Linked DNA regions of Homo sapiens: all the other regions are linked to region 2. Evidence: fine-mapped QTL for protein levels in blood plasma. A gene starts in region 2. Each other region holds a variant in brackets. All regions are shown on one strand. Distances are between the middles of the regions.

The links. A credible set is the group of variants that fine-mapping cannot tell apart. PIP is the posterior inclusion probability: the model's chance that the variant is causal. The UK Biobank Pharma Proteomics Project read protein levels with antibody pairs (Olink). The fine-mapping took linkage between variants from a reference panel, not from the people measured, so its PIPs are less certain.
Region 1: its variant is the best candidate, but not a certain one, in a credible set for the plasma level of the FRZB protein (UK Biobank, PIP 0.76).
Region 3: its variant is the best candidate, but not a certain one, in a credible set for the plasma level of the FRZB protein (UK Biobank, PIP 0.58).

Annotation. Positions count from the first base shown.
Region 1 is chr2:182,829,469-182,836,964 of GRCh38, reverse strand. It overlaps FRZB (frizzled related protein), which reads left to right. Exons shown (of 6, transcript NM_001463.4): 6 at 2,000-3,690. The coding sequence ends at 2,116. Among named protein-coding and RNA genes, the nearest start is that of FRZB, 33 kb to the left of the region's middle. The variant G/A (reference allele first, on the strand shown) is at 2,328.
Region 2 is chr2:182,862,164-182,869,659 of GRCh38, reverse strand. FRZB (frizzled related protein) reads left to right here and starts at 3,023. Exons shown (of 6, transcript NM_001463.4): 1 at 3,023-3,585. The coding sequence starts at 3,108. RefSeq lists an enhancer at 2,892-3,860.
Region 3 is chr2:182,878,331-182,885,826 of GRCh38, reverse strand. No RefSeq gene overlaps it. Among named protein-coding and RNA genes, the nearest start is that of FRZB, 15 kb to the right of the region's middle. The variant A/G (reference allele first, on the strand shown) is at 3,113.

The sequences.
Region 1 (7,496 bases), 33 kb after region 2:
GGCACTTGACACGGCAGACACGTTTGGGTTTAAGTGACCTACAAAAATGTAGAGGGCATTATTTTGTAAGGAGAAACTACCCTCCAGTAAGTTCTTCTCCCCTTTAGTAGATTTGTCAAAAGGGAGATGCATTTCAAGTTCAGACTTGCGGGCATTCTCTCTGCATCTCTCTTCAATTAGTTTGGTGTTTATTAAAGAAAAAAGTGGCTCTTGTTCAGTATGTTGGAATCTCTTACTGTCTTTAATTTGGTTTTCTGCTTGCTAATGCAGAACTGGAATTTGTCCTAAATTCCTGTACCAGTTGGAAAAGCTTTCAATATCCCTGCTGCGAAGCATGTAACAAGGCTTACTGCTCCTCTTTTGGTACCAAAACAATATCATTGTGTTGTTGACAGGACACATGGCTTGTTTGTCCTGTTTCCCATTGCTTTCTGCAATATTTCCCATTGTTTTCCGCAGGGGACTTGCAGAGTTATTATTGTAAAGTCATTTATATTCTCAGTCTGGATTTAAATATTCTAAAGGAAAGAAACCAATAATTTGAACAATTTTAAATTCATATGCAGATATTGAGGGCTAAAGAGTTTGGGTAGAAAATCTCCTTTGGCCAGAATTATTGAGATTCCTATTTTAGTTTTCCAGTCAATTTGAAGATGTGTAAAAAGAGTTTTATGGAGGATGTTATTTTTTCAATCAGATTTGCTCTTAGCTGAGTTTTGCTCTCAGTGGATGAATCAATAATTTTATAAGAAACATTATTATGTTTTTTTCATGCAAATGGTTGTTTACCTAAGTCTCTTATAGCAGACGATTCAAGATGTTTGGACTTCCTTGGGAAGTTGAGAATCAGACTGTTTTTAAAATATGAAGACAAGATTGTGGAGTAAAGAATACTGAAATGAAGAATTACCTTCAGTAACAGAAAAACAATAACACATTTACTATGTGCTAAGCACTTTATATTTTTATTAATCTTCAGATGTATCTACTTATAAGTAGATTCTATTATCAGTTCCAACATATACATGATGAAAATGAGGTCTAGTAAGTTCAAGAAACTTCACACAGTAAGTGGTGGAGTTAGAATTTGAACTTGGGCCATCTGACCCAAGGATCTGATGGTGCTTGCTCTTTAAAGTGTGGTCCCTGGATCAGCAACATAGGTATCACCTGGGAGCTTGTTAGTAATGAAAATCTTCGGCCCTGTCTCAGACCTGCTAAATGAGAATTTGCAATTTTAACAAATTCCCCATATGATATCCGTGTTTGAAGTTTGGGAAGTACAGCTGTAGTTCGTATTCCCTACCTATCCTCATGTAATATAACTTCCATTTAACTTAAATTACATGAAAATATTATTGACATTGTTAATATGAAATATTACTAAACTTGATTGTGTTTATTAAAAACATTGCTAATACCTGCTTTGTAACACTTAGAACGAGGGCAGGACCTTGTCTGTTTTATTCATTGTACTTAGTGGATATTACTTAGAAAAATATTTTTGAGACCCCCCCATCCCTCAAAAAAATTTCCATTTTTTTTTCACTGCTCAAATCACATAGACTTTAAAAGGCTATGTTCTTATGTGTATTAAGAGAGGATGTTGAAAAATAGCCTTCCCTTCAAATTCTGTGTGTAAATCTTCCATTTGTTGAGTATCTGTGAAGCACTAGCCTCCTGTATGTTACCTCAGGAAATACCCAGAGATATAGGGAGATATTTCTGTCATCATTTATAGACATGGACATTTTAAGTTTAAGGTTTGATAAGAAAGCATTACTAAATACATTATAGATGTTGCGCTTGTTAAAGTCAGAGAATAATGTTCATATTGCATCAGTTTTCTTGTTACCCTGGGAAATAGATTGATACTTTTGGAAAAGTAGCAAAATGCTTCAGAGATCTGAACTTGCAGTCTGACCCAGTTGTTAGAATCATGGAAATAATGACCCTGGTGATATGTGCTTGTGACTATTTTCTATTTTAAATTTCACAGCGCTGGGATATGAAGCTTCGTCATCTTGGACTCAGTAAAAGTGATTCTAGCAATAGTGATTCCACTCAGAGTCAGAAGTCTGGCAGGAACTCGAACCCCCGGCAAGCACGCAACTAAATCCCGAAATACAAAAAGTAACACAGTGGACTTCCTATTAAGACTTACTTGCATTGCTGGACTAGCAAAGGAAAATTGCACTATTGCACATCATATTCTATTGTTTACTATAAAAATCATGTGATAACTGATTATTACTTCTGTTTCTCTTTTGGTTTCTGCTTCTCTCTTCTCTCAACCCCTTTGTAATGGTTTGGGGGCAGACTCTTAA[G/A]TATATTGTGAGTTTTCTATTTCACTAATCATGAGAAAAACTGTTCTTTTGCAATAATAATAAATTAAACATGCTGTTACCAGAGCCTCTTTGCTGGAGTCTCCAGATGTTAATTTACTTTCTGCACCCCAATTGGGAATGCAATATTGGATGAAAAGAGAGGTTTCTGGTATTCACAGAAAGCTAGATATGCCTTAAAACATACTCTGCCGATCTAATTACAGCCTTATTTTTGTATGCCTTTTGGGCATTCTCCTCATGCTTAGAAAGTTCCAAATGTTTATAAAGGTAAAATGGCAGTTTGAAGTCAAATGTCACATAGGCAAAGCAATCAAGCACCAGGAAGTGTTTATGAGGAAACAACACCCAAGATGAATTATTTTTGAGACTGTCAGGAAGTAAAATAAATAGGAGCTTAAGAAAGAACATTTTGCCTGATTGAGAAGCACAACTGAAACCAGTAGCCGCTGGGGTGTTAATGGTAGCATTCTTCTTTTGGCAATACATTTGATTTGTTCATGAATATATTAATCAGCATTAGAGAAATGAATTATAACTAGACATCTGCTGTTATCACCATAGTTTTGTTTAATTTGCTTCCTTTTAAATAAACCCATTGGTGAAAGTCTTTTTTTTTCTCTTCTTTTAAAATAAATCAGAATTGCCGTATTGACCAGGAAAAGATTATGTATGCACGTGCACCAGGGTTAGTTTTTAAAAGTACATGGCTCCATAAAAATGCTGTAGATTACAGAGTGATAAAATATGCAGGTTTTTTTGTTTTTGTTTTTTCTGTTGTGTGTGTGTCTGTATTTGTGTACATGTGTGTCCTTGCACTCACACCCAAGGTGGATTAAAATACAGGCCTGCAAACTGGCCTGCACTTTATCATTTGGATTTGTGCTGCTTAATGCTCAGCGAAAAATGTCTAGTAAAATGAATTATGGTTGTCAGGAGAGAGGTTATTTCGACTTTTGAACCAATTGCACATTTCTCATTACCCAAGCTGTGGTGAGATCCCAGGGGCTGTGGTGAACAAATGATGCTTTTATAGATGGTCCCTAGCTTACAATGATTCAATTTACAATGCTTCAATTTAACAATTTGTTGACTTACAATGGGTTTATCAGGATGTAACCCAATGCATTTCAACTTACGATATTTTCAGTTTCGAATGGGTTTATCCAGATGTAACCCCATCGTAAATGGCGGAGCATCTGTACTTCCTTCCTCTGGCAGAGTTCCTTAGAGCCTGTGCCAATTACTTGAAAGTTTCATTCTCTGCCATTTACATGTGTGCTATTAGTAGAACCAAATTTCTAAGCTGTGGCGTGCTGAAAATAAAATGCTTATGAAGCAAAAATCGTGCTATGTTTCCTTCTACAAGGATAATCAAGCAAGGATGAAATTCATTCCTGAACAAAAGTTTCCTAAAATGGTAAATAATCATCTATCTAAATGTTCTATTTTAAAAGTGTGAGCTGGGTGTGGTGAGTGCACCTGTAATCCCCACTACTTGGGAGGCTGAGGAAGGAAGACGGCTAGAGCCCATGAGGTTGAAGCTGCAGTAAGCTATGATTGCGGCCACTGTACTCCAGCGTAGGCGATAGAGCATGACCCTGTCTCTGTAACAACAACAAAAGTGTGAAAGTTCATTCTACAAATTGGAGTCACTCATATCATACCCAACTAAAATGGAGTCGGGAGGCCATGGGGAAAGGCACCCAGGTCCCTGTTCCAGGAACCATTTTTGCAGTTCAACAGAAAAATCACGAAGACCTAACTCTAACCTTAAGATAAAGTTACCTAGCTGCTGCCACTCACCAATCAGAACTTGCTAGATCCTACAAGACGCGCCTGGCTCCAGTGAACTTTCATTCAAAACCATTTAGATCACCTTCCTCTCTTCCCCAATAAAACCCCAGCCTTTCTCTTTGTTCTTTGAACACAACTAGAGGCTACACTGGTTTGTGTGCCCAGAATTACAATTCCAATTCTTATATTCCCAAATAAACCCTTTACTTGGAGATTTATCTCCCTATATTTAAAGGTGACAGAGTAAGGGAACATTCCTGCCTTCTGATTGACTCTCCAAAGCCAACAATTTCCCCAGCCCCAGAAGAAAACATTCCCACCTTTGCCTATAGGACTGCATAGTCTTTTGAGCTTCCAAAAGACCACTTCCAAAGGGCTTGCCATCTGCCCATTGTTGCTATATTCTCAGATGGCAAGGACATCTCTTTTGAGGTGCTGATGTCCTACCCTTAAAAGGTGAGTTGGGTGTCACTGGGGAGTAATGAAGCGCCACCGTGGATGGACTGCCCCTGAGAATCTCTCTTCCTGGTATGTAAGCCTCAACTTGAGCCTGAGGACAGAGGGGTGGAAAGTAGTGCTGGTGCCTCAGCCTGTTTTCCTCAGGCTTTCTCACGTTAACTCTGTAAAGAAGGACAAGAATTGACTACAGGAGAGGTTTAAAGGAACCGTTATCTCAAATCCACAAACCTCAACTCTCTCAATGCACAGTAAGCAATGTTAAGTAAGGAACTCTTTTGATGTATAAAAGCTGCAGATGTTTCCAGCTTCTGCAGTTTTTTTTGGGGGGTGGGGGTTGGGTAAAGGGGGTATGATCAGTTTCTGTGTAGGAATTTGACACACTTTATGCTTAATATAAACAAAACACGGCCAGATTCTTAGATTCAGCAGTTTTTTTTTTTTTTAAACCACCTTCCATTCGGTGCCATTTTACAACCTACTGTTTTACCACTACCATCTATAGTGGCAATGTTTGATTTTGCTCACCTATATGAGGCTTCTGTCAGCTGTTTAAACATTTCTAATGGTATAAAGCCCATGAATAAAGTACATTTGGTTTTTCAGTTTGATAGCTACAATATCTTCATTAATAAACTGTGCAGACCTCTTTTGGGAGGATGGCGTGATTTATCATGATGGTCACGTTTCTCAGGAGACTGCAAAACCATTTCTACTCTAGTTGCCATAGTACAAAGACACCTCGTTAATGCCTCTCTATAGGGTTTTCTTGCAGATAGTAACTTTTAAAGCCACTAAAAATTTAATATACATGCATCCTTGTCAGTAACCTTGAGATTGATAAAATTTATATTTCTTTAAAAAATTTTATTCAACTTTAGGATTTTAATTTTCTTAGCCAAATTAAAGTCAGATGCATGCTGAATAAAGTAGCAAATACTTAAATAGCAGCAAACATGGATTCTCTTTTCATGGATATGTATTTTACTGTGTCACATACAATGTAATCTGATTCAGTGCCATATGTTGCACCCAGCATTCAGGGATGGGGTGAGACAAACTGTCTTTCCACATGTGTTACACATTAAGAAGGCAAAAACAAAAGTTATAATCACTGTGAGCAAATAGCACTACCTATTGCCTTCTGCAAGAAATTATTTGCTGTTACATTTCAACAAGTAAAATGACTAAAGGTATTTCAAGATTGACATTTAGCACTGAGTTTTAACATATTTTAATACACAAAAATTCAAGAAGATGGTAAAAATAAAGCAGAGACTTCTAATATGGTGTTACTGAAATCCAGCCTATAAAATTTAAAAGTATGGTACCCAGATGTATTAATATTAACAAAAACAGTATAGTCATACCTTTCATAATTATCTGTTTGGGGTAATAACATCTAACAGTGGCTGGAACTCTATATGAAACACTTGTGCATATGTTACCTCACTTATTCCTTGAAAGTTGTTGAAGTAGATGTTTTATTCCCATATAACAGATTTTTTTTTTTTAAATGAGTATTTAGAACTTCAGAGTTGTGTAAGTAGCAGAGCTGGGCCTTAGATCCTCATAATCTTATTTCCCAAATTATATGTTTTCCACCACTGCAATTTCTGATAAAAAGGTAAATGCATCCTAGCACTGTAAAAAAAGAAAAAGCATAGTGTCAGGCATATAGTGGTAGCTATTGCTATTATTGGATTATAATAAATAATAATATAAATATAACAATAGCTATTATTTCTTAAACTGAGGTCTACCAACTATGTTAGAAAGCCTATATAATATAGGCCCAACTCTAATCCAAGATACAGTCACTTCACATCTTCAGGTGTCCTCCCTTATGAAATCAGAATTTCAGTAGAATTATTTCCATACAGACAGGCAGGTGAATTAAGTAATTTTGGGGGCATTAGTTGTTTAAAAATGTGTGACTCTCAGAAAAGCATTTTTCAAGGTTTCTGTTTTCCCTTGAATTTGTAGAAAAGTAAACAGTTAATTGTATTCAACAACACCTGGAAGAAAGTTGAAATTAAAAGTTGATAATTATTACAAATAAAACGAGAACGACTACTTCCACTGGGAACTCCCATTTCTCCTTTTTAGATTATGCCCCCTATGTTTCCCACCACCAGAGTCCTCCATAATCTAGAAAAACTATTCCACCTGACCTAATTCCCCCTGCTTTTCATTCATTAAGTATTTTCACTATGACAGGGATTCAACATGTTAATACAACTAAATATGTTTTTCTTCCGATGAAATGCAAACGTTTGTCATGTTTCTACTTAGGTGGTTGTTGAGAACTTGAGGAGTTGTCCCATGAAGAAGGAAAGGTTGTGCTCAAGGAAATTTGTCCAAAAAAAAAAAAAAGGATTTGTGGGCTGTTGAGGAAACTGACACAGAAATGAAAGAAAATGCGGGAAAGAATTTTCTACTCACCACAGGGATGTGGAGGGGAATGACCCCACTCATTACACAGTGGTACTGTGGCCACTCTTGCAAACAGCCACCACCTCCCTCCCCACACACTTAGCATCACGATGTGAGGTTGATGTTATGATTGCAGGGTTGGACTTAGGATAGTCTGGGGCCTCAGCAAGGGTGGGTCGGGTGATGTCTGAAACATAGGATAGCTCTGAGATGTTAAGAAGTCAATGAAACAGGGAACAAAGGATTTCTTGTTTATACTGGGTGGTAAATCCAATAAATAAAGCAGATGCAGTTCACTCTAATGTCTTTATTTCTACATTATTTTGGTGATTCTGAGGGAATCATGGCTTCCCAGAGATGGTATTCCTGTCCTAGCACTGAAAAGAAGAATTTGAGTTGAACTGTGGGACAACTTGGCAAAAGGAGAGATCAATATGAACAAAATTCCTATTGGAAAACTTT
Region 2 (7,496 bases):
AGAAGGACAACTGCATGCATATGTTTATTGCAACACAATTCACAATTGCAAAGATATAGAACCAAACTAAGTGCCCATCAACCAAAAATATGGAACTAAACTAAGTGTCCATGTCCATCAAATGATGAGTGGATAAAGAAAATGTGGTATATATACACCACGGAATACTACCCAGCCAGAAGAAAGAATGAAATAATGTATTTTGCAGCAGTTTGGGTGGAGCTGGAGGCCATTATACTAGGTGATTTAACTCAGGAATGGAAAATGAAATACTGTATGTTCTCACTTATAAATGAGAGCAAAGCTATGGGTACAAGAAGGCATATCTTTGAGAGGTATAACAGACTTTGGAGACTCACAAGTGGGGAGCTTGTGAGTCTACTAGGGAGGCTGAGGCAGGAGAATCTCTTGAACCCGGGAGGTGGAGGTTGCAGTGAGCCAAGATAGTGCCACTGCACTCCAGCCTGGGCAACAAGAGCAAAACTCCATCTCAAAATAAATAAATAAATAAATAAAGGAATAATTTGTAAAAACAAACACTGTTCAAGGGTAACTAACCAGAAAAATGAACACAACTAGACAAGGTACTCAAAAGGGCTTCCTCAAGACAGTGACATTTATTTTGGGCTTTTATAAAAACAAATTTGGATTAAAGTTGTAAGGGGACCTATTAGACAAAGAAGATAGCTGACTTTTGTGCAGGGGAAGGAAAACAGACTTTGTTTCAAATAGTTGTAGAACCTTTAAAACTATTGGCACATTTCTTCTCACACTGTAAGACTTAAGATGAACAGAAAAATGTATTTAGCAAACAATCTACTACATCTACTCCTGATGTTTTTTCTTCTAATTATTGAAAATCTCAGCTATATTTTTCTTATACAAAATAGTCCCAAAATGTTCTAATGTTGACTGTCTTTTAAAGTTGTTTTTCCTCTAAATTTTACTTGATAAATCATTTTAAATTCGTTTGTACAATTTTTGAATTTGTTCTCTTACATGACACTAGATAATTGTAGACCAGGCAAAGTTTGTATACTAACTGACTCCCTGTCTACCATCTGGTGTTCCCCGCCCCCGCCACCATAAGTGGAACAAACTTCCTTCCAAAAAAATTTACAGCAGTCACAAACTGCTGTTTATGATCATTTTAGATATAAAATTCCATAACTCAAGTTAGCATTGACATTTTATAAGTGCTGTCAAGTCACTCTAGGGAATGAAAATGAGCATCTCACTATGTGCTCTGAAGTGGGGACATATTTCTCTGCTTGTTATGGACGGTGAGAGATGGCTAAATTGAAGCAGAGAAATATTTCAGTGATGCAGAGCAAAGGTGACTTCCTGTTTTGTTTCAGGTTTTGTTTCCTTCTCCTCTCAATGAAGGCTGTGTTTTCTGACATTCGGCAATCCTTTTGCTCAGTGATTTCCCATTGAGAGGGCATAGTGTGAAGGCCTCTGCAGGTCATTCCATTTACAATATAAGCTGAAAGGGTAGAGTGGGGCGGGGGTGGGGGGAAGAGGGAGCTCATTAGTGGAAGAAGCAGACCAGGAGGGGATCTGTTTTCCATTTTCTCCTCCAGATTGAACTCATCTGGATGGAAAGGTTTTGATTGTTGTTATAATCATCATTATTACCTGCGTGATGTCGTTTTCCTACACTTTTTTTTTAAGTGTCGGGCAGAATTGTTGCTGAGAATAACAAATAATATCTGCCATGTTATCCGTGAGCAAAATCAGAAAAAAAAAGTCCAAGTGTATTAGAGCTGTTAGTTTCCACGTTAACCCTTAAGGAGCAAAGCTCAAGAGTTCTAATTCCACTAGGTGGGGGGGGCGGGAATAGAAGGAAAAAACCCCTTTTCCTTGCTTCTGGTGGCCTATTTGTAGTCATGAACAGCATTTCTTTGTTTCTCTCTCTCTTTTTTTTTTTTTTTAAAGGCAATCCTCCCCCCACCTCCTCCCCCGCAGTTATTGAAAATGGAGACCTCTGTAGTCACTAGCTCTGGGTTGATATGGCTCCACCGTTGCTCGCAGGGGTCTGTGTTTTCCGCTACTTGGACAAAGTGACATTGCTTAAGCCTTTCCCCCCACCAGGTCTGACTTTCTGCAGAGCCAGTGATTGCAGAGGAAAAGCTGTAGTTTGCTTAAAGGAAATACCTCCAGGAAGGAGGGTCTCGGGTGGGTTCCCAAGTGGGGAACTAGGGGGACTTTTCCGTAGGGAATTGGGGTGGGCTCTTCAGTGAGGGGCTAGGGGCTCGTTTCTGGGGCCAAAGACGGGTTCCCTAGTGTGAGGGCGCGCTCGACTCGGCGCTGTCTTGGGGTCTCGCACTCGCACGGCTTCGCACCCCACCGCCTGCGACTCCCAGGCCTTCTCTTCCCCGGGCGCCCACTCCATTCTCGGGAAGAGCAGCCGGCACTGGAGGGCAGAGACTGCCCCAGGGGCGGAGCTCCCTCTCAGGCGGGAGGTAGGAAAGTGCAGAGCCGCCCGGGCAGAGGCACAGACGTCCCTGCGGGGCTCCTCCTGAGCGTCCCTCCTGCCAGCCAGGGTCGCAGCCGCAGCGGCGGCCGCAGCTCTTAGCCCACACAGGACTTGTAAACTCTTACTGCACCCTTCTCTCCCATTAGGAGCTTTTCCTCCCTCCTTCCCCCCAACCCCTCTGTCCTCCTCACTTTGGGGAATTTAATGCTTTCTTTAGCATCTTTTTGTGTGCGTGATCTAGGGGAGGAGACACCCCAGAGCTCCAACTAGCTCTCAGCTGAATTCTACTTTTGTTTTTATGTCTTCCTCGCCTCCTCTCGTGTCCCTCTTATCTGACTGATCTGCGAAGTCTGATGCTTCTGCCAGAGGGAGAGGAATAAATAGATGTTGCTGCTTCCGAAGGCTTAGACGTTGGGAAAGAGCAGCCTGGGCGGCAGGGGCGGTGGCTGGAGCTCGGTAAAGCTCGTGGGACCCCATTGGGGGAATTTGATCCAAGGAAGCGGTGATTGCCGGGGGAGGAGAAGCTCCCAGATCCTTGTGTCCACTTGCAGCGGGGGAGGCGGAGACGGCGGAGCGGGCCTTTTGGCGTCCACTGCGCGGCTGCACCCTGCCCCATCCTGCCGGGATCATGGTCTGCGGCAGCCCGGGAGGGATGCTGCTGCTGCGGGCCGGGCTGCTTGCCCTGGCTGCTCTCTGCCTGCTCCGGGTGCCCGGGGCTCGGGCTGCAGCCTGTGAGCCCGTCCGCATCCCCCTGTGCAAGTCCCTGCCCTGGAACATGACTAAGATGCCCAACCACCTGCACCACAGCACTCAGGCCAACGCCATCCTGGCCATCGAGCAGTTCGAAGGTCTGCTGGGCACCCACTGCAGCCCCGATCTGCTCTTCTTCCTCTGTGCCATGTACGCGCCCATCTGCACCATTGACTTCCAGCACGAGCCCATCAAGCCCTGTAAGTCTGTGTGCGAGCGGGCCCGGCAGGGCTGTGAGCCCATACTCATCAAGTACCGCCACTCGTGGCCGGAGAACCTGGCCTGCGAGGAGCTGCCAGTGTACGACAGGGGCGTGTGCATCTCTCCCGAGGCCATCGTTACTGCGGACGGAGCTGGTGAGTTTTGACACGGCCCACCCTTCCCTTACCCTACAGCCTCCTCAATTCTTGGAGTCCTTGTTACTAGCCTTTACTCTCTAATTTTTTTCTCTTCGGATCACTTAATCTCTCCCATAACTGCTCCTCTATCAAAGACCCTTCTTCTTCTTTCTTCTTTTTTCAAAAACAAAAACAAAAAAACCCTCACCTTATCACCTTCCAAACTGATGCACTCTGGCACTGTGTTCCAATAGGCGATCTTTCTAAAACAATCCATGCATTCCAAACCCATCACACTTCTACTCCACAGGAATCCTTCACTTCAACTCCTTACATGTGCAAGTAGCCACATTTTGTAAAGTGATGCTCTTTTTCTTTTAAAATGTGTTTATAATCATTGGGTTTTCTTTGCTGATTCTCAGGCAATCTCAGTCATCAGGTTTCTGTATCTTTAGTGTCTTAGATGCTTGTTAAGATTGTGTGGAGGAAACAGAAAACTGAAGCCCCATTTTCTTCTAATTAAAAATGCCAAGATAATTTCAATAACCTTACTCTAACCGACAGATGTTAGGGGTATGTGTTTGCTCAAGATCCAGTTTGAGCAATTACCTTCACCTTAAATTTCCCCCTCCTTTCAATGAGATAAATTGTTCTTCCATTCCAGAATGAAACAATTGTGAAACATTGCTATGCACTGTTAATTAGCTTCTGTGGCTTGCCATAGAGCTGGCAGACTGAAATTACTGAGCTCTTTTCACATGCCCACATGCCTTCAAGTCATTTTATAAGTGGCATACAGATGAAAGGAGTTATATTTAAGGCGTGTTATCATACACTCACGTAATGTTATTTTAAATCTCACCCCTTATTCCACTCTCATGTTTTGAAAAAAAAATTGTCTTTAATACCTTATTTCATGCTCCTTTTCCGTGTGTGCACCAACCACAGTCATTTCAGTCTTTCCCTACCATAAAACTTTATTGCAGCTCTAAATTTAATGGAGTCAATCACAAGTTGTTTTCTCACTAGTGTTTAGTCTAATTATGACATTTGTAACTTTAAGACCCCAACTAAACCTACTTCATTATGGTCCATTTAATTCTAACTCAGTATTACTTCTACCAACTAACCCAACCTCAAATTTTACCCTTCATATATTTTATAAAGAAGGCAATTTTTTTTCATGAGTGGTCCTCTTTCATACCACATCCCCCACCCCCCAACAACTCTGTTCTTAGATGTGTTGACTTGGTTGCCTCCATCTGTTTATTTCTTGGGCATCAACTTTCCTTCCTCTTTCAACTTGCGCAGTCTAGGCGCATGTCCCCAGTCCATTTCCAGGTAGTAATTCTTAGTTATCGGGAAATTGATTTGGAAAAATTACCTTCTGTGCACGTTGACTCATTTAACAAAGTGAGAGAAGGAGAAGTAATTGTAAAAATAGCTGAAGGAAAAAAAATAAACAGAAGAATTTCAAGAACTTTTTAATGGTGACCTCACTTAGTTTATCACTTTTTGAATATACCTATTGTCTTCTTGATTTTAATCAAGAACCAAAAGCTAGTTGTGCAAAATCATCACAGAAATGTATTTGCTATTAATCTTTGCTAAAAGAGCATGCTTGAGGCTTCGTACTCACTAAAGTCACAGACTGCAGAGTCTGGAAGTGCTCAGTGCAGTTGCCGCTCTGGTTTGCCAGGCACTTAGAATCAGTTAAATGCAGGTGCTCCTCTCAGGCCAAGGGCTAGGAATGAGGTGGCAGTGGTTCAGGCTGAAATGCATTCCTCCCCGTAAAGCACAAAACTTGCTCTTAAACCTCCCTTAGAGGTGGACCTAGAGTGAGTGAGGTTTGGCAAGGTTAATGGCTCTCAAAAAGCCATAGTCAATATGGATAGGAAGCAGTTTCATTAAGTGTCCCTGAGTTACCAATCACTGTGGAACAAACATGGAAACAGTTGCCTCATTGAAGCACTCAAATAGGACATGCATGGAAACAATTTGTCAGTTCATGGGACCTGATTTCTAAGCTTCTTTAAAATGCCAGAGTATTTGCTTTACTGGCAGCATCCTTGCTAGAAAAATAGGTGGTAGTTGGAATCATAGTTAGTGATGGCATCCCTGCTCCCTTCCATAAGCTTCAGTGTGAACCAGAGGCTATGATGGCAAGGGGAGCTCAAAGGTGGGGGGAGGTGGAAATTGGGAATGAAGTGTGTAGATTGTAGCCTGAAGGGTCTCCTGGCTTCCAGGGCCAGCTTGTTGAAAATTACATTCCCTATGCTGGGTCAAACTGTCAGACACCTGGAATTACTTAGGAACTACCACATGTGGCCAGTGTAATTTACCATGCAATATCCAATATACTCTTTGGTTCAGTGGGAAGTGATAGTTCACAAAGCAAGGTTTTTTTCTTATTCAACTGGGTATAAACAGAATCCCTGTGTCTTTTGACTAGTATCTGTCCAACTAGATATAAAAATGAGGTCTCCCTGAATAAAATAGGACAATCTTTCACATTCTTCTGATGCCAAGAGGATTTTCAAATCCTACCCATTCATGGGGATCTGTTCTCTCATAGTATATCATGACTCCACAAACAAGCTTAGGACCTTTTACAAAGCAGTCTTACTGAAATGGAGTAATGCTTGAAACTACTTTTTGCTTTCAAAATACTAAGGGTAATCATATTTTTGAAAAGAACGGGTTCCATCCTGACCATTATTATTCATCTTACACATTTTATATTTGCATAACTTTGTGTGACTACATGTACAACTGATTATCTGAAAACTCAGCTCAATTGAGTCATTCAGCAAGTTAGTGATGACATTCAGTCAAATCTTTAATATTGTGTGGTGAGTAAAGAGGATAGGCTTGGAGTGGGGCAGACCAGGTGTGAATGACTCTGCCCCGACATCAACTATTGTTATAGGAAAATTATATGACCTCTGTAATTCAAAGTTTTCTTATCTGTAAAATTAGGACAAAACTATCTACATCCCAAGGGCATGGTAAAGATGAAATTAAAGCTGGTGCAGTGGCTCACTCCTGTAATCTCAGCACTTTGGAAGGCCGAGGCGGGTGGATCACTTGAGGTCAGGAGTTGGAGACCAGCTTGGCCAACATGGTGAAACCCTGTCTCTACTAAAAATACAAAAATTAGCCTGGGATGGTGGTGCGTGCCTGTCGTCCCAGCTACTCCAGGAAACTGAGGCAAGGGACTCACTTGAACTCCGGAGGTGGAGGTTGCAGTGACCTGAGATGGCGCCACTGCACTCCAGACTGAGCGACAGAGCCAGACTGTGTTTCAAAAAAAAAAAAAGAAAAGAAAAGAAAAGAAATTAAACAGCATATAAAGCATTGCTTTAGTACTTAGTAAGCACTGAAAAAAGTGCTGCTGCTGTTTTACTATTATCACTGTTAAAACAAATTGACTAACATTTTCTATTTTGTTTTTGAAATGGTTATGTTGGTAAATGCAGATGCAGCCTAGAACTTTTATTAGTTCATCTCTGGGGAAAAACAAAACAAAAAAGCTTTACACTGGGACCTAACTGGAAAAACAAATCTTATTTCTTCTAAATATATAAAGTTAGTATTTCCTTTTACACAAATTGACCTAGACCTCAGGCTCAAGAGCAGATCCCCTTGGGAGCGACAGAAAAAAGAATGAGTCTGGTGGAGGAGTTAATTACAAATAATTCATCTCAGAAACCCAGGAATCAAGCAGTTAAGAAAATTTATGGTATGATATTTCACAGCTATTTCCACAACACCTACAGTTTGCCGTGCCAAGGGCTTTATAATCATTCCTCAGTCAGTGCTGGCTTCTGGGGCAGTGTTAACTTTTCTCCCCAGCTCTTGCTCAACACGTTTCTGCAGGCCTTCTCTCTCTTGGCATGAGCCGTGCCAACTTTCATATGCAGGAGCTG
Region 3 (7,496 bases), 16 kb before region 2:
AATTAAATAATTGAGACTCTCACTTGTCCTTACTGTTTTTATTCTGTCAAACTCAACATTGTAATAATCAGACTGACAGCCAAGATTGAGGATCAAAACAAATATTTATTATAAATTATAGTCATGGATTTAATTTTCTAGAGAGGCTTGGAAACTATCTCTTATGAAGGAAATAAGTAAAAGCAGATTTTTATTTAAAGATGGAAGATATAATCCTCCCCTAGATGTATTCCATAACATCATAATGTTGCAGTAATTAAACAGTTTGACCAGATATTTTTCCTTTAGGCTCAAGAAATTATTTATTGTTACATTCAGTTAATAATATTGCATTGATCTCATATCAGTCGTACGTTCAAGGTAGAATTTGGAAATCGCAATCTTCCTGTCTTTCTTTTCCTTTCCTGAGAGATTGCTCAAGGGTGACAGGCTTTGCAAGACACATTTCCTAAGATCAAACCAATCTTGATGTTAAGGTCTTTATGAATTATCATCAGATTGAATTAAGATATCTAGGGAATTAATGGAATGGAATTGAAAGTCCAAAAATATGTTCAACTGATTTTTTTTTTTTTTTTTTGAGACAGGGTCCCTCTCTGTCCCCAGGCTGGAGTGCAGTGGCATGATATCGGCTCATTGCAACCTCCACCTCCCGGGCTCAAGCAATCCTCCAACCTCAGCCCCCTAAGTAGCTGGGACTACAGGCATGCATCACCATGCCTAGCTAATTTCTATGTATTTTTTGTAGAGACAGAGTTTCACCATGTTGCCTAGGCTGGTCTTGAACTCCTGGACTCAATCGATCAGCCTGCTTCAGCCTACCAAAATGCATGGATTACAGGTGTGATCCACCATTCCTGGCCTGTAAACTGATTTTTGACAATGGTGCCAAGACAATGAAATAAGGGAAACAATATTTGAACAAGTAAGTGCTGAGACAACAAGATAGTAGCATGTAAAAGAATGAAGTGGAATCACTTCCGTACATCATGCATAAAAACTCACCCAGAACGGATTATAGACCTAAAGATAAGAGCTGAAACTATTAAGAATTCTTAGAAGAAAACAAAGGAGCCAATCTTTGTGACCTTGGCTTCTTAGATATGACACTAAAAGCACAAGAGACAAAAGAAAAAAGATAAATTGAACTTCATCCATATTAAAAACTTTTGTGCTTCAAAAGATACCATTAATAAAATGAAAAGACAATCCATAAAATGATAAAATATATTTTCTAATCATATATCTAATAAGGGACTTGTATGTGGAATATATAAAGAACTCTTAAAACTCAAAAACAAGACAAGTAACTCAATTAAAAAGTGGCAAAGGTATTAGCAATAACACAGACCAAAAAGAAAAAAAAGTGGCAAAGGATTTGAATAGCAATTTCCCCAAGGAAGTTGTACAAATAGCCAATGAGCATTTGAAAAGATATTCAACGTCATCAGTCATTAAGAAACTGCAAATCAAAAGCACAATGAAATGCCACTTTACACCCACTAGGATGGCTATAATAAAAAAAAAGATTATATAAATGTTGTATCTATAAGTGTTGACAAGGATGTGGAGAAATTGGAACTTTTATATTTTGCTAGTAGGACTACAAAATGGCACAATCACCTTGAAAACAGTTTGAGAGTTCCTAAAAATGTTAAAATAGAGTCACCATGTGATCCAGCAATTTCAATTTCACTTCTAGGTATATACCCAAGAGAAATGAAAGTATATTTAATGCAAAAACTTGTACACAAGTGTTCATGCCAGCATTATTCATAATAGCCATAAAGGTAGAAACAATCCAAATGTCTATCAATTGATAAATGGATAAGCAAAATGAGATATATCCATTCAGTAGAATTTATTTAGCAATAGAAAGAAATTAAGTACCGATATACGCTACAACATAGATGAACCTAAAAGCACTATGTAAAGTGAAAGAAGCTATTTACAAAGACAACAAATTCTATGAGTCTCTTTATATAAATAGGCATATATGTATGTCCAGAATAGGCAAGTCCATAGAGATAGATAAATGGCTGTCTAGGGCTGGAGTTACGGGGGAGAAATGGGAGTGATTGCCAACGGGTATGAGGTTTCATTTTGGGGATGATAAAAATGTTCTGAAATTGTTTGTGGTGATGATTACACAACTATGTGAATAAACAAAGAGCCACTGAATCATATACTTTAAAAGGGTAAACTTTATGGAAATCAAATTGTGTCTCAATGCAGCTGTTATAAAAAAAGATATCTGAGGGACTGGCAGCAATTTAGTAGGTGAGGTATTTATATTAAAACATGCCAGACTTTTTCTAGTGGGCACTGGGTTAAGACTGAAGGAGTAAATTTCCATGCAGAGGAAATGCAGTGTTGTGACGGGGAGTACAGAATTTGCAGCCAGATTGTCTGGATTTTAATCCTGACATGACCTCTTATTAAGTCATGGGATCTTGGGAAAATTATTCTGCGGCCTAATGTCCTCATTCACGAAATGGGAATAATAATAATGGTACTATGTTTTAGAGTTGTGGTGATTAAATATAAGCTTTAACAGGGCCTGGTACATAATAAATCACAGTAATGCTATTAGGTTGGTGCAAAAGTAATTGCGTTTTTTTTTTCTCATTACTTTTACCACAATTACTTTTGCACCAACCTAAATATATAAGTATTTGCTGTTATTATACAGGCTACAAAATTCAAAGCATAACCCTCTGGAGCTGACTTAATTTCGACTCTTTCTGTTTCCAAATGAGTGAGTAATCACATGAAAAAAAGGAGCCAAAATTTTAATAAGGAAAAATGGATTTCTAAGGCGTAGATTTCAGAGAGATAAAATACAGAGGAAGAATAAAATATTTGTATTTGCCTTCTCTTACAGCTACACTTTAAGAATTATTATCTTGTATCTATGAAATATGATTAAATATACCCAAGAAAAAGGCAAGATGTCTGCATTCACCTTTCGAGACTTATAATTAGGAAATTCTCTAGCTACTAAATTAACTATTGAGTTACTAAGGATGTTAGCATTGAGTGGATCCCATTTTTCTGGCCTGAGTTACATTATAATAATTCAGTTCCTTGTGATGGAAGAATGGACAGAAAG[A/G]TTGAAAGAGTATTAGCCAGAGGTAAAGTTATTACCCAGTGATGGGAAGAGTGAGATAGATAGCTGAGAGCCACCTTGAGGATAAGGGCCTCAATTAGAAAATATCTTGGAGGAAAAATTGCACAGGATGGTTAATGTTGTTGGGTTAGCAAGAGGAGCAGCAGGTCAGGATTCCCAGGTGGGGCCAATCTGTTGATTAGTGATATAGTGGTACTAAAGCTGTTCCCAGGGAAGGTTCTCTGAGCACTAGGAGGATCCATCTTAAGATGTAGGTCCTTTACATTGGCTAATTTATTTTGAAATGTCTTACTTTACCCCTAAAAATCTTTCAATAGGCACTTCTGACATTCTGATTAGCATTTATTCTTCAAGACTGAAGACAAAAGTTTAGATTTAAAAAAATGCATTGGATTTAATACTTTATGTGGTTGCCAAGTTTGCAGGTTAGTTTTATCATTATTTATATATCAATGAAAGAGACTGATTTGCCTTCCAGATTAAACGTAAGATGTATGACTCACATTTTTTTTTTTTGTCTCTCATAGGCACTGACTTTTTGTTATTATATTATGGTAGCTTTCATTTCCTTTACTCTTTTTTTTTTATTATACTTTAAGTTTTAGGGTACATGTGCACATTGTGCAGGTTAGTTACATATGTATACATGTGCCATGCTGGTGCGCTGCACCCACTAACTCGTCATTTAGCATTAGGTATATCTCCCAATGCTATCCCTCCCCCCTCCCCCAACCCCACAACAGTCCCCAGAGTATGATATTCCCCTTCCTGTGTCCATGTGATCTCATTGTTCAATTCCCACCTATGAGGGAGAATATGCGGTGTTTGGTTTTTTGTTCTTGCGATAGTTTACTGAGAATGATGATTTCCAATTTCATCCATGTCCCTACAAAGGACATGAACTCATCATTTTTTATGGCTGCATAGTATTCCATGGTGTATATGTGCCATATTTTCTTAATCCAGGTATGACTCACATTTAACAAATCATAGATGAATGAGGGTTAACCTGGTTATTGCTTTTTTTTTTTTTTTTTGAGATGGAGGCTTGGTCTGTTGCCCAGGCTGGAGTGCAGTGGTGCCGTCTCAGCTCACTGCAACCTCTGCCTCCTGGGTTCAAGTGATTCTCCTGCCTCAGTCTCCCAAGAAGCTGGGATTACAGGTGCATGCCACTACGCCCCGCTAAATTTTGTATTTTTATGCGGATGGGGCTTCACCACGTTAGCCAGGCTGGTCTTGAACTCCTGACCTCAAGTAATCTGCCTGCCTAATGCCAAAGTGCTGGGATTACAGGCGTAAGCCACCATGCCCAGCCCTTTTGATTGTTCTGTTGGATTTATTGTCTTGTGAGGGATCATTTTAAGGCTAGTTTCTAATTAGGCCTCGGTCACAATGAGTTGTTTAGGTGTCTACATTATAACTGCAGCATAAAACTCATGTTGGAATGACCTGTATGCTACTTGGTTGCTCCTTTGTTACCATAAGGAGAAATAAGCAATAAAATAAGGCTTTAAAAGATACGATAATACAAAAGATGTGGCAAAACATGTAGGTCTATTCTAGAGTAAGATGATAGAAAGGGTGTTTTAGAAATTATCTGTAATTATATCTTGTCAAAGGGAGATTAGACAGAAATTCAGAATCATCGGGGTTTCAACTGACATGGGGAGAGCCTACAGTGTGGGTTCTTGGATGTGCCCCACACTTCCCCTTCCAGACCCTGAAAACCTTTTGGACTGCTTGAAAAGTCTATAATAATAGACTTAAAATAATCTTAAAAGATTATTTTAAGGTATTACATAAACTGAATACCATTATGTTAATTATCAGATATATTTCTATAGGCATTTTCTGTTTCCAGGTGTATAAGAAAAACACACACTACCAATAGAGAAGGAGAATTGTGTAAATAGATCAAACTAGCAAACACACTTAACTACTGTATTAGTTCATTTTCACATTGCTATGAAGAAATTCCCAAAGCTGGGTAATTTTTGTTTTTATTTTCTTTTTCTTTTTTTTGTTTTATATGGACTTCATTATTTTTTAGTAAAGAATTAAATAAAATGTAAGTTTTTTTATTATACTTTAAGTTCTGGGATACATGTGCAGAACGTGCAGGTTTGTTACATACATATACATGTGTCATGGTGGTTTGCTGCACCCATCAACCCGTCATCTACATTAGGTATTTCTCCTAATGCTATCCTTCCCCTAGCCCTCCACCCCGCTCAAAAGTCCCCAGGGTGTGATGTTCCCCTCCCTGTGTCCATGTGTTCTCATTGTTCAACTCCCACTTATGAGTGAGAACATGTGGTGTTTGGTTTTCTGTTCCTGTGTTAGTTTGCTGAGAATAATGGTTTCCAGCTTCATCTATGTTCCTGCAAAGGATATGAAGTCATCCTTTTTTATGGCTGCATAGTATTCCATGGTGTGTATGTGCCACATTTTCTTTATCCAGTCTATCATTGATTGGCATTTGGGTTGGTTCCAAGTCTTTGTTATTGTGAATAGTGTTGCAATAAGCATGCATGTGCTTGTGTCTTCATAGTAGAATGATTTATAATCCTTTGGGTATATACCCAATAATGGGACTGCTGGGTCATATGGTATTTCTGGTTCTAGATCCTTGAGGAATTGCCACACTGTCTTCAACAATGGTTGAACTAATTTACACTCCCACCAACAGTGTAAAAGCATTCCTATTTCTCCACATCCTCTCCAGCATCTGTTGTTTCCTGACTTTTTAATAATCGCCATTCTAACTGGCGTGAGATACTACCTCATTGTGATTTTGAGTTGCATTTCTATAATGACTAGTGATGATGAGCTTTTCTTCATATGTTTGCTGGCCACATAAATGTCTTCTTTTGAGAAGTGTCTGTTCATATCCTTCGCCCACTTTTTGATGGAGTTTTTTTTTCTTGTAAATTTGTTTAAGTTCCTTGTAGATTCTGGATATTAGCTCTTTGTCAGATGGATAGATTGGAAAAATTTTCTCCCATTCTGTAGGTTGCTTGTTCGCTCTGATAGTTTCTTTTGCTCTGCAGAAGTTCTTTAGTTTAATCAGATCCCATTTGTCAATTTTGGCTTCTGTTGCCATTGCTTTTCGTGTTTTAGTCATGAAGTCTTTGCCCATGCCTATGTCCTGAATGGTAATGCCTAGGTTTTCTTCTAGGGTTTTTATGGTTTTAGGTCTTAGGTTTAAGTCTTTAATCCATCTTGAGTTAATTTTTGTGTAAGGTGTAAGGAAGGGGTCCAGTTCCAGTTTTCTGCATGTAGCTAGCCAGTTTTCCCAACATCATTTATTAAATAGGGAATCCTTTCCCCATTGCTTGTTTTTGTCAGGTTTGTCAAAGATCAGACGGTTGTAGATGTGTGGCGTTATTTCTGAGGCCTCTTTTCTGTTCCATTGGTCTATATATCTGTTTTGGTACCAGTACCATGCTGTTTTGGTTACTGGAGCCTTATAGTGTAGTTTGAAGTCAGGTAGCATGATGCCTCCAGCTTTGTTCTTTTTGCTTAGGGTTATCTTGGCTATATGGGCTCTTTTTTGGTTCCATATGAAATTTAAAGTAGTTTTTCTAATTCTGTGAAGAAAGTCAGTGGTAGCTTGATGGGGATAGCACTGAATCTATAAATTCGTTTGGGCAGTATGGCCATTTTCATGATATTGATTCTTCCTATCCATGAGCATGGAATGTTTTTCCATTTGTTTGTGTCCTCTCTTACTTCCTTGAGCAGTGGTTTGTAGTTCTCCTTGAAGAGGTCCTTCACATCCCTTGTAAGTTGTATTCCTAGGTATTTTATTCTCTTTGTAGCAATTGTGAACGGGAGTTCACTCATGATTTGGCTCTCTGTTTGTCTATTATTGGTGTATAGGAATGTTTGTTATTTTGGCACATTGATTTTGTATCCTGAGATTTTGCTGAAGTTGCTTATAGCTTAAGGAGTTTTTGGGCTGAGACGATGGCGTTTTCTAAATATACAATCATGTCATCTGCAAACAGAGACAATTTCACTACCTCTCTTCCTATTTGAATACTCTTTATTTCTTTCTCTTGCCTGATTGCCTTGGCCACAACTTCCAATACTATGTTGAATAGGAGTGGTGAGAGAGGGCATCCTTGTCTTGTGCCAGTTTTCAAAGGGAATGCTTCCAGCTTTTGCTCATTCAGTATGATATCATAAATAGCTCTTATTATTTTGAGATACGTTCCATCAATACCTAGTTTATTGAGAGTGTTTAGCATGAAGGGGTGTTGAATTTTATCGAAGGCCTTTTCTGCATCTATTGAGATAATCATCTTTTTTTTGTCATTGGTTCTGTTTATGTGATGGATTACATTTATTGATTTGTGTATGT